3 linked regions of the Homo sapiens genome follow. The protein of the gene in region 2 purifies or fractionates together with the protein of the main gene of each other region. This does not show direct contact. Each region holds a gene or a part of one and is shown on either strand. Other genes may lie near its edges. The genes, in order: USP29, CTDSPL and TBC1D4.

Region 1 (4,218 bases), on a different chromosome or scaffold from region 2:
TGAGTTCAAAAGACAGGTAGGCTTCATCATTTTCATTTTGGATGCATGCTCTTTTCTGAAAATGCCAATATCCAATGCCACAGAAAACAGAAAACTATCCCCTCAAAATAAAAACCCAGAATCAGGATTTTCGAATTTACAATTCAACCTCATAAAGGGTAGAAGATGAAATTCCCCTCATCACAATATCTGACAATATCTTTAGGGCATTAAGTTTAGACAGACCCTCCTTCCAACACTCACACACACATACACACACACACACACACACACACACACACACACACACACACATCCCATCACCCAAACAAGCAAACCTTGAATGAAACTTACAGTTTGGAGAGCTGTTCTGGGTGAGTGGATGATAATTCTTTTTTCAGAAATGAGATCTTGCTATGTTGCCCAGGGTGGTCCCAAACTCCTGGCCTCAATCGATCCTCCAGCCTCAGCCTTCCAAAGTGCCTGGATTAGACTCCATAGCGCCTGGAGGAGAATGATGGAAGTTGAGTCTGACAGTGATTATGATGTTCCGACCTTTTATTCCCAGGTGGCTCCACCCATATCACGGGTTTTTCCAGGAAATACGTTTCTTGATTAACTTATCTCTGTGTAAGAGTTTAAAATATTTGTCTAGAAAAGGCTAGATAGTGACTTATTTTACTTTATTTCAATTGGTAATTAAAAACTTTTATTTAGAAATCATTGCAAATATACATAAGAATTGCAAGATTAGTAGAAATAACTTATATTCCCTTCACCCAAATTTACCAATTGTGTATATTTTGCCACATCTGTCTGCTTTCTCTCTCCCTCTTTTGATGTTCTATGTATCTATCTATCTATCTATCTATCTATTTTTTAATAGAGACAAGGTCTTGCTATGTTGCCCAGGTCTCGAACTCCTGACCTCCAGTAATCCACCCGCCTCAGCCTCCCAAAGTGCTGGGATTACAGGCTTGAGCCACCATGCCCAGACATGTTCAAGTCCCTTATATAACAGGATATACTTTTACTCCACTTAATGTTTACCTGTTTTCTTTGTAGTAACCGTGCTTTTTGTTTTATATATATATAATTATATATATATAACATATATGTATATATATAACATATGTAAGTACATATAACATATGTAAGTATATATAACATATGTAAGTATATATAACATATAAGCATATATAACATACATATAAGCATATATAACATATATAAGTATATATAACATACATATAAGTATATATATAACATATATAAGTATACATAGCATATATAAGTATATATAGCATATATAAGTATATATAACATATATAAGTATATATAACATATAAGTATGTATAACATGTATAAGTATATATAACATATATAAGTATATAACATAAGTATATATAACATATAAGTATGTATAACATATATAAGTATATATAACATATATAAGTATATAACATAAGTAGATATAACATATATAAGTATATATAATATATAAGTACATAACATATATAAGTATATAACATATATAAGTATATATAACATATATAAGTATATATATAACATATATATCCTACATTTTCAACACGTGTAACAAATGTGGATAGTTTCAAAAAGATCATTTTACGTTCTAGTAGTTACCCTGTTTGACCAAAGTGTAGTACTTTTATTTTTCTATTGCAGTGCATTTTCTTTTTTTTTTTTGGCGGGAGGTGAGGGAGCGGAGCGGGGATGGAGTCTCACTCTGTCACCGAGGCTGGAGTTTAATGGCGTGATCTCGGCTCACTGCAGCCTCTGCTTCCTGGGTTCAAGTGATTCTCCTGCCTAAGCCTCCTGAGTAGCTGGGATTACAGGAGCCCGCCACCACGCCTGGCTAATTTTTTGTATTTTTAGTAGAGACGGGGTTTCGCTATGTTGCCCAGGCAGTCTCGAACTCCTGATCCGCCCGCCTTGGCCTCCCAAAGTTCTGGAATTACAGGAGTGAGCCACCGTGCCCGGCCTTTTTTCTGTTTTTTTTTTTTTTTTTTTTTTTTTGAGACGGAGTCTCTCGCTCTGTCGCCCAGGCTGGAGTGCAGTGGTGTGATCTCGGCTCACTGCAACCTCCACCTCTGGGGTTCAAGTGATTCTCCTGCCTCAGCCTCCCCAGTAGCTGGGATTACAGGCACCCACCATCATGGCCAGCTAATTTTTGTATTTTTAGTAGAGACAGGGTTTCACCTTGTTGGTCAGGCTGGTCTCAAACTCCTGACCTCAGGTGATCTACCCGCCTCGGCCTCCCAAAGTGCTGGCATGACAGGCGTGAGCCACCGACCCAGCCCTTTTTTCTTTTATATAGTTTTTGAGACAGGGTCTTGCTCTGTTGCCCAGGCTGGAGTGCAGTGGTGCGATCATACCTCACTACACCCTCGATCCCCAAGGCTCAAGTCATCCTCCAACCTCTGCCTCCTGACTATCTGACACTACAGGCGTGGGTAATTTTTAAATTTTTTTGAGACATAGTCTCACTTTGTTGTCCAGGCTGGAGTGCAGTGGCATGATCTCAGCTAGCTAATTTTAAAATTTTTTGTAGAGATGGGTGGGGGGAGGGTCTCACTATGTTGCCCAGGCTGGTCTCCAACTCCTGGGCACAAGCGATCCTCCCGCCTCGGCCTCCCAAAGTGCTGGGATTACAGGCATGAGCCTGGCCAGCATTTTCTGTTTGAATGTTTTTACGTAACCGGAGTCGTCATGATGGAGGTACAGTTCCTTGGACTTCCGGCTCCCATGGCTCTGGAAATCTCAGCTCGGACCCGCCCCTTCCGGCGCCGACTCCCCTGATTCTCCTGGGAACAGAAGAGTTCTGGGCACAGCACGCTGCGTCTGCGCAGTGCCGGGCGCAGGCCTCCCGACCTACGGGTCTAGGTACGGGCTCTAGCGTGGCCGGGGCACATAGAGTTCCTGGCCTAGAGCTGGTGGGGCGTAACGGCAGGAGTTAGGGTTCAGAGAAAACCAGCCCAGGGGCGGGTTCATCCTGTTACCCATTCAGCCTCAAGCGAGGTGGGGTGTGGTAGGTGGGCTGGTGCTAGAAACCACGCCGGGAATTGTTAATAACAGTCATCCCGGCCGGGCGCGGTGGCTCACGCCTGTCATCCCAGCACTTTGGGAGGCCGAGGAGGGCGGATCACCTGAGGTCAGGAGTTTGATATTAGCCTGACCAACGTGGCGAAACCCCGTCTCTACTAAAAATACAAAAATCAGCCGGGCATGGTGGTGGGCGCCTGTAATCCCAGCTACTCGGGAGGCTGAGGCAGGAGAATCGCTTGAACCCGGGAGGCGGAGGTTGCAGTGAGCGGAGATGGCGCCACTACAATCCAGCCTGGGCGACAGAGCGAGACTCCGTCTCAAAACAACAACAAAACCCCCAAAAAAGCGGTCATCCTCCAGGTGGAAGAGACAGAAGAGAGGGTGCGGAAGAGACTTAAAAGTCTTAGGCCTTCAAGCGTGTTTGCCTCAGCCACCCGTGAATCCTACAGGAAAACTAAAACAACTCGGCCACAAGCCCCCAAGTCTTGGGGAAGCGGACGGTTTCCCAGCCGAGCTTTAGGAGGAGGCGCCGCGGGACCTCACGGGTGACGTCGTCCCCGGGGGTAGTTTGCGCAGAGGGTCGCTTTGGGCGCGCTTAGAGTCGCGTGGTGCCTGGGCCAGCGAAGCCCAGGTGCAGTCATTTGTGGCCCTGTCCCGGCGCGCGAGGGGCCAAGGCTGGTCGGGGGCCGGGTCCGCGCGGTAGCAACTGCGTCCTGCCAGCTTCCATCTCTCCCTCTGAGGGCCTGAGCGGCTGCCAGAGTCAGGTCTGCAGGCCGGGCGCTCACGCGTCTGTGCCCAGTGAGGCCCCAAGATGCTGGTGAGGCCTCGACCCTGACTGGTGTCCAGGCTCTTGACACTGTCGTGAGAAGGAATTCATGGATGAGCAGAACAAAGTGTGGAGATTCATTGCGACGGGAATAAGTACGTACTGAAGAAAGAAAAGTGCAGGCATACCACAGAGCATCACGCCCAGCGGGGTTTGGAGCTACCTTTAAATATTTATTTAACCAAGGGGTGGAATATTCATGAAGATTCTTGGAAAAAGGTAAACATTTCTTGGTACTGCGGTGCCACACATTTTTATACTAAATACGGGTGTTCCCCAGAGCTGTCACAGTGGGTGTGTGACTTAGTATGTTAATGAGCACATAATGAGAGGTCCTAGGTGAA
Region 2 (3,734 bases):
GCTCTAGCCTGGGTGAGACAGAGCCTCAGCAAAGAAATAGTCTCAGCAGAGAAGAGGAAGATATAAAGAAAAACCAAATGGAAAATTTAGAACTAAAAAATATAATAATTGAGATAAAAATCTCAGTGGATGTGCTCAATAACAGACTAGAAGAAATAAGGAAAAAAACCCAACAAATTTGAAGACAGAACAACAGAAATTACCCAACTGAACAACATAGGGGAGAAAAGACTGAAAACCAAAAAAGCTCAGTATGGATAAATCTGTGGGACTATAACAAAAGATCTAACATTTATGTCATCATAGTCTCAGAAGGAGAAGAGAAAGAGCAGAGCTGAAAAAGTACTCAAGAAAATAATGCCTGAAAACTCCCCCAGTTTAGCAAAGACATAAACCAAGAAGCAGAATGAACTGCAAACAGAATAAGCTAAAAGAAATCCATGCCAAGACATATCATAACTAAACTTCTGAAAGCTAAAGATGGTAGGGCCACTTTGGAACACAGTTTGGCAGTTTCTTACAAAACAACAAAATACTCTTACCATACAAACCAGCAATCATGTTCCTTGGTATTTACCCTAAAGAGCTGAAAACTTAAATCTACACAAAGACCTGCACACATATGTTTATAGTAGCTTTATTCATAAGGGCTAAAACTTGGAAGCAACCAACATGCCCTTCAGTAGGTGAATGGATAAACTGTGGTACATACAGACTATGAAATATTAATCAGTATTAAAAAGAAATAAGTTAACAAGCCATGAAAAGACATGGAGGAAATGAAAATGCATATTACTAAGTGAAGGAAGCAAATCTGAAATGGCTACATACTATATGATTCCAAGTATATGACGTTCTAGAAAAGGCAAATCTATGGTGACAGTAAAAAGATCAGTGGTTGCCAGGGATTGGGCAGGGGAGAGAGAGATGAATAAGTGGAGCACAGAGGATGTTTAGGGCAATGAAATTATTCTGTATAATACTATAATGGTAGGTATATGTAATTATACATTTGTACAAACTCATAGAATATAAAACCCCAGGAGTGAACCCTTATGTTCTTGGACCTTGGGTGATAATGACATGTCAACACAGGTTTATCAATTGTAATAAATGGGCCACTCTGGTGTGGGATGTTGATAGTATGGGGAGCTATGCATCTGTGCAGTCAGGGAATATATGGAAATTCTCTGTGCTTTCTGCTCAATATGGCTGAGAACCTAAAACTGCTTTTAAAAATAAAGTATATTTTTAAAAAGTATTGAACTGAATGAAAACCAAAATTGCAAAATATCAAAATTCGTGGGACACAGCTAAGGTAGTGTTGAGAGAGAAACTTGTAGCACTAAATGCATAAATTAGGAAAGGGAGAAAGCCTCAAATCATTCATCTAAGTGCCCCTTCAAGAACCTAGAAAAAGAAGAGCAAAATAAACCCAAATAAAGCGGAAGTAAGGAAATAAAGATAAGAACAGAAATCAACAAAGTTGAAAACAGAAGCAATTTTAAAAATCAATGCAACAAAGAACTGGTTATTTGTAAAGAATAAGAAAATTGAGAAACCTCAAGCAAGATTGACACACAAAAAATAAGATGGAGGACACACATTGTCAACATCAGGAATGAAACAGGGCATAACACTACAGATTCTGCAGGCATCAAAAAGGTAATAAGGGAAAAATGCTATGAATAGCTCTATACACACAAATTTGACAACTTAGATGAAATGACTCAAATCTCAGAAAAACAAAAAACTACCCAAGTTGCCCAATCTGAAAGAGATAATTTAAATAGCTCTATAACTATTAAGAAAATTCAATCTGTAGTTTAAAAATTCCCCCCAACCCCCATCCCTCCGAAAAAACGTCCAGGCCCAGATGATTTCACTGGAAAATTCACACCAATTCTACACAATCTCTTCCAGAATACAAAAGAGAGGTAACACTGATACCAAACCAGATAAAGACAACACAAAAAAAGAAAACTGCAGACCAACATCACTTACAGACAAAAAAATCCTTAACAAAATATTAGCAAATAGAATTCATCAATATATAGAAAGAATTATACACCACAACCAAGTAAGGTTCATTCCATGGACGCAAGTCTGGTTCAATATTCAAAAATCAGTTTAATCTATCGCATTAACAGACTAAAGGAGAAAAATCACATGATTAGACTAATTGTTGCAGAAAAAGCATAAGACAAAAGTTAACATTCATTCTTGATTAAAAACTCTCAGAAAAATTGAATTAGAAGGTTACTTCCTCAACCTGTTAAAGACTTCTATTAAAAAACCTACAGCTGACATTATACTAATGATAAAATACTGAATGGTTTCCCCCTAAGACTGGGACCAAGACAAGGATGTCCATTCTCACTACTCTTGTTCGACATACTGCTAAAGTTCTAGTCAGTGCAATAAAGCAAGAAAAAGAAATAAAAGGCATACAAGTCAGAAATGAAGACATGTAAGTGTTCTTATTTGATGACACGTTTGTCTATGTGAAGGACTTCAGGGAATCTATAAAAAGCCTCTTACAACTAATAAGTGAGCTCAGCAAGGTCATAGGATACAAGATAAGTATTCAAAAATCTTTTGTATGTCTGCATGTTAGCACTGAACACGTGGGCACCAAAATAAAAAATAAATACAATTGATAGTCGCTTAAAAAATAAACACTCTACAGCATTGTAGGATAACTATGGGCAACAATACTATATAGTTTTAAATAACTAAAAGGAGGATAATAAATGCGCCCAACACAAAGAAATGATAAATGTTTGAGATGATGGATATGCTAATTACCTTGATCTGATCACTACGCAATGTGTTTATATGATTATATACCCTATAAATATGTAAAACTATGATGTATCAATTAAAATATGTATAGTTTAAAAAGAACACTCAGATGTAAATCTAATAAAATATTAATAGGACTTGTATGCTGAAAGCCTAATGGCAGAATCAAAGATCTAAATAAATAGAGAGACGTACTGTGTTCATGGATTGGAAGACTTAATCTAGAAAAGATGTCAGTTCTCCTCAAATTGATACACAGGTTTAATTAAATTCCTATCAAAATCTCAGGAAGATATTTGTAGATATAGACAAGAGTATTGTAAAATTTACATAATGTGGCAACAAAACTAGAACAGCTAAAACAATTTTGAAAAAGAACAAAAGTTGGAAGCATCAGTCTACTCTATATCATGACTTATTATTTAGCTACAGAAATCAAGATTATATAGTATAGGCAGGGGGATGGACATATAGATCAGTGGGACAAAATAAATAAACCCAGAAACAGACCCACATAAATATGCCCAACTAATTTTTGACAAAGATGCAAAAGAAATTCAAAGGAGGAAGGACAGATAACTTTTTCAACAAATGTAGCTGAAGCAACCAGACACTCAGAGACAAAAAACCAAACCAAAGTTTCACGCCTTATTAAAAAATGGACTCAGAATGGATCATGAACTTAAATTTAATGTAAAATTATAAAACTTGGAAAAAGCGTAGGAGAAAACCTTCGGGATCTAGTGCTAGGCAGAGAGTTCTTAGATTTGACACCAAAAGCACAATCAATAAAAGGAAATATTTATATATTGCACCTTATCAAAATTTAAAACTTTTGCTCTGAAAAAGGCTCTTTAGAGGATGAAAAGCCAAGCTATAGGCTAGAAGAAATACTTGCAAACCACATATCTGAAAAAGGACTAATATCT
Region 3 (3,500 bases), on a different chromosome or scaffold from region 2:
ACCCTGGGGACATGTCATCAGGACTTCCTGGGGCTGTGTCACAGGTGCGCATCCTCAACCTTGGCAAAATACACTTTCTAAATTAACTGAGACCTGTCTCAGATTTTCTGGTTCACAACTCTAAAACTGAGAACAATCCAAACGTCCATCAGCAAGTGAAGAGATAAATAAAATGTGGTACATTCTATAAACCAAAAAGTATCTGAGACAGGTCTCAATCAGTTTAAAAGTTTATTTTGCCAAGGTTAAGGGCATGACCATGACACAGCCTCAGGAGGTTCTGAGAACATGTGCCCAAGGTGGTTGGGCTACAGCTTGGTTTTCTACATGTTAGGGAGACATGAGACATCAATCAGTATATGTAAGATGTACATTGGTTCGATCCACAAAGGTGGGAGAACTCAAAGGGGCAGGGTGGGGAGTGTGCATGGTGGGGGCGGTGCAGTTCCAGATCGTAGGTGGATTCAAAGATTTCCTGATTGGCAATTGGTTCCTAGAGTTTATCTCCTACTAAATTCCCTTCTACTCAGCTCCAGCCACAATGGCCTCCTTGCTATTTCTCCAACATACAAGGCACATTCCTCCCACAAGGTCTCTGAGTTCAGAGATGTTAACAGTTTATTGCCACATCCATTTAATATTTTCGGACCACAGATGACCACAGGTGACTGAAACTGTGGATAAGGAGGGGCTGTTGTAATTATTTGGGATATACTGCTAGAACATTCATAGTTTACAAATAACAAGAATTTCCGCTTGCTAGACCAAGTATTTCCTATGAAAGGATAAAATCCACATGCTATAGCTTCAGTGACTCACCCTGAACACTTGCCATGTCTCAGGGACAAAGTCAGGTATCTGTGCTAACATGTGACTAGCAACCTCAACCCTTCATCATTTTCTTACTGCCTTAGTATGTGATTTACCTTACCTGGCAAGGGCCAAAGCTATGGAGAGTGAGCTAGCTGACACTCAACCGTGCAAACCTGCAAAAAATAAAATGATTCTAGTGGGCAAAGCCCTAGGAGAATGATCTCTTCTTTCTCTCTACTTTTCATCTGATTACTAAATATTTTTAATCTGATTTTTAACCCAAAATCTTTTTGTCTGATTTCCACTAAATACTTTTCATCTAATTTTTAACCCAAGTATGCCTCCAAAAGTGTCTCTACAGAGTACGGAATCAGAAATATAGCCTGTAGCACTGATTTTACTGCAGATATTTTATCTTGTTACAAATATTTAAATGATTTACATACAACCTCAGAGTTCCATTCTACAATTGAGATTGCACATAAAGTCAATTCAACCTTAATTGTGTCAAGTCTTTTGAATTTCTCTACCGCCATATCAAGAGTTTTTACATGAAAAACTGATTTGTGGCTGAATTTCTGTAGTCTCCCAGGATCCTTCCCTGTGACTACAGGTAAAAACTCAACACCTAAATGTAATTCTGTAAGTGATCCAATTTATATAAGCAAAGTTTATCATCTTGAATTCTAAACTGAGTACATAATTTAATCTTTAATAATTTAAGATGCTAATATTACAACACAAAACTGGTTCTAGTTACCTTTACTACCTTTTCTCAGGTTATGACTAACCACAACTTGAATGACATGGGTTGCAGAGACTCTGCAAAACTAATCTAACAACAGCTCTGTTTTTTTTTTTTTTGCTTATCCTCATGTGAAACACAGAGTATAAACACTAGCATTATACAGCCCCTGACTACTCACTTAGGCCACACCAGAAGGGGCACACTGCTCATATAAGCACAGTAAAATATCCATAGCGGGGAAATGAGTGATCAGAGAATCATGAAAATCTTGTATTGAAGCATTTACTTAAGGGATTCATCAGAAACAATGCAAGAGAAATAAAATTTCTATCAAGTACTTGTACATACATACAATATTTTGGAATCATAGGATTCTCCTGTAGCATAGTGTTAACTGACATATATTTATACATACATTTACAAATATTGTTGAACGAATTTGAATCCTTCTTATATGTGTTGTATCTTTTCAATATCTCTTTCTCCTGTACCATCGTACCATAAGCTCTTAAGTGAAAGACTGAGTTGGGGGGATTTTGTTGCTTACTAGAATTCCTCCCTGTGGCCACTAGGAAAATGGTCTGGGCTCAGAAGAACTTGAATGAATGCTGACAGCAAACAGAGTCATATATATAGGAGTGAAAAACTACCTAGAACTCTGATATAAATTCTTCAGGACTGAGACAGTTTAGTAAATTCCCGTTGGTGACTCAAGAGATCTGTCACACCCAAAAATAGAAAGCAGTGGCTTCTCACTCTGCTCACCATTCACCCAAACTAGGAAGTGACGGTATGTTTCCAGAATGACTCTAAATGTTATAGAGCACCTCAAGCTACACACCCTAGCTACATATTGTAGCTACAAATAATTCCGCTGCTCAGAATCTGCCTACAACCCACAGAGCCTAATGACGATTTACACACACCAATTTAAGGCAAGATTTCTACTCAGTGGCAGCATTTAATCTATTAACACAAAACAATGATACTGAAAGAGGCTCAACCAAACTAGGGACTGACAGGTTTATATTCTATCCCCAATATTTTGCTCAAGACCTCTGGGAATAGTTGTTGCACCTCTGCCAGATAACTTCCTCAAGAGCAAAGTGAATGGGGGAACTTGATAGATGGTTGATAAGGTCTCATCGAGATCCACATTCTGTGAGTTAATTTTTGGATTAATGCCAATATAAAGGCAGGATAATGTACAATCAAGAGAGGGAAAAATCACCTTTATGATTAAACCTGAAGTAGTGTGCAAGTTGTTAAAATGATCCATTTCCATTAACACACAGGAATCAATTCAACAGAAATAAGGGTCTCATTATATTTAGAAAAAGCACAGTGCCACCTTTAGCTAGTATTTTGTTGTTACACCTTCAGTGACCTCACTAAAACAATTTAGAATCAAGTACCAAGACTCAGACATTAAAGCAATTCCTCACTCTAGACAAAAAAAAAAAAATATTGCTTCTAGATTCCTTGATGTCATGCTGTTCTTTCTCATTAATTGGTTATCATAGTTACTTAACATACTTCAAAAAACCCATTAACATTTTATAAACTACATTTTACCTGATTTCAAAATAAAACAAATTCTACAACTACCAAACACTGATGTTCAAAGACCTGAACAAACACAGGAGAAAATCTGGAGAGTGAAAAAGCACTAAGGAAAGATACCTTTGATCAGGAAGCCAGCTGGAAACTGGAGGTGGTCACGAAGAGCAATGATTTTGCCAAACTGGTGTAGTCCTCAGTATTAGCTCTAAGTTCTCTCTTTCTAAATAAGCTGGCGGTATTTTCATTGTATTTATTAAAGTCCACGTTATCACTATGCAGCCAATTATAAAACTTCCCAGGAGTAACCATTATTGCTTCAAAAGTTAAGTATTTCCTGACTCTGCAATCAGGAAATACACAGATTGTTTGGGACTAA

The links.
Region 1: the proteins of CTDSPL (region 2) and USP29 purify together in Homo sapiens (affinity purification with western blotting, with the first as the bait; one study listed by BioGRID). This does not show direct contact.
Region 3: the proteins of CTDSPL (region 2) and TBC1D4 purify together in Homo sapiens (affinity purification with mass spectrometry; one large-scale study listed by BioGRID and IntAct). This does not show direct contact.

Annotation. Positions count from the first base shown.
Region 1 is NC_000019.10:57,118,590-57,122,807, reverse strand, and holds the start of USP29 (ubiquitin carboxyl-terminal hydrolase 29), read right to left. Parts: upstream 2,824-4,218; 5' UTR 2,579-2,823; intron 484-2,578; 5' UTR 334-483; intron 1-333.
Region 2 is NC_000003.12:37,868,306-37,872,039, reverse strand, and holds part of CTDSPL (CTD small phosphatase-like protein), read right to left. Parts: intron 1-3,734. UniProt on the Homo sapiens protein: Recruited by REST to neuronal genes that contain RE-1 elements, leading to neuronal gene silencing in non-neuronal cells.
Region 3 is NC_000013.11:75,363,670-75,367,169, forward strand, and holds part of TBC1D4 (TBC1 domain family member 4), read right to left. Parts: intron 1-3,500.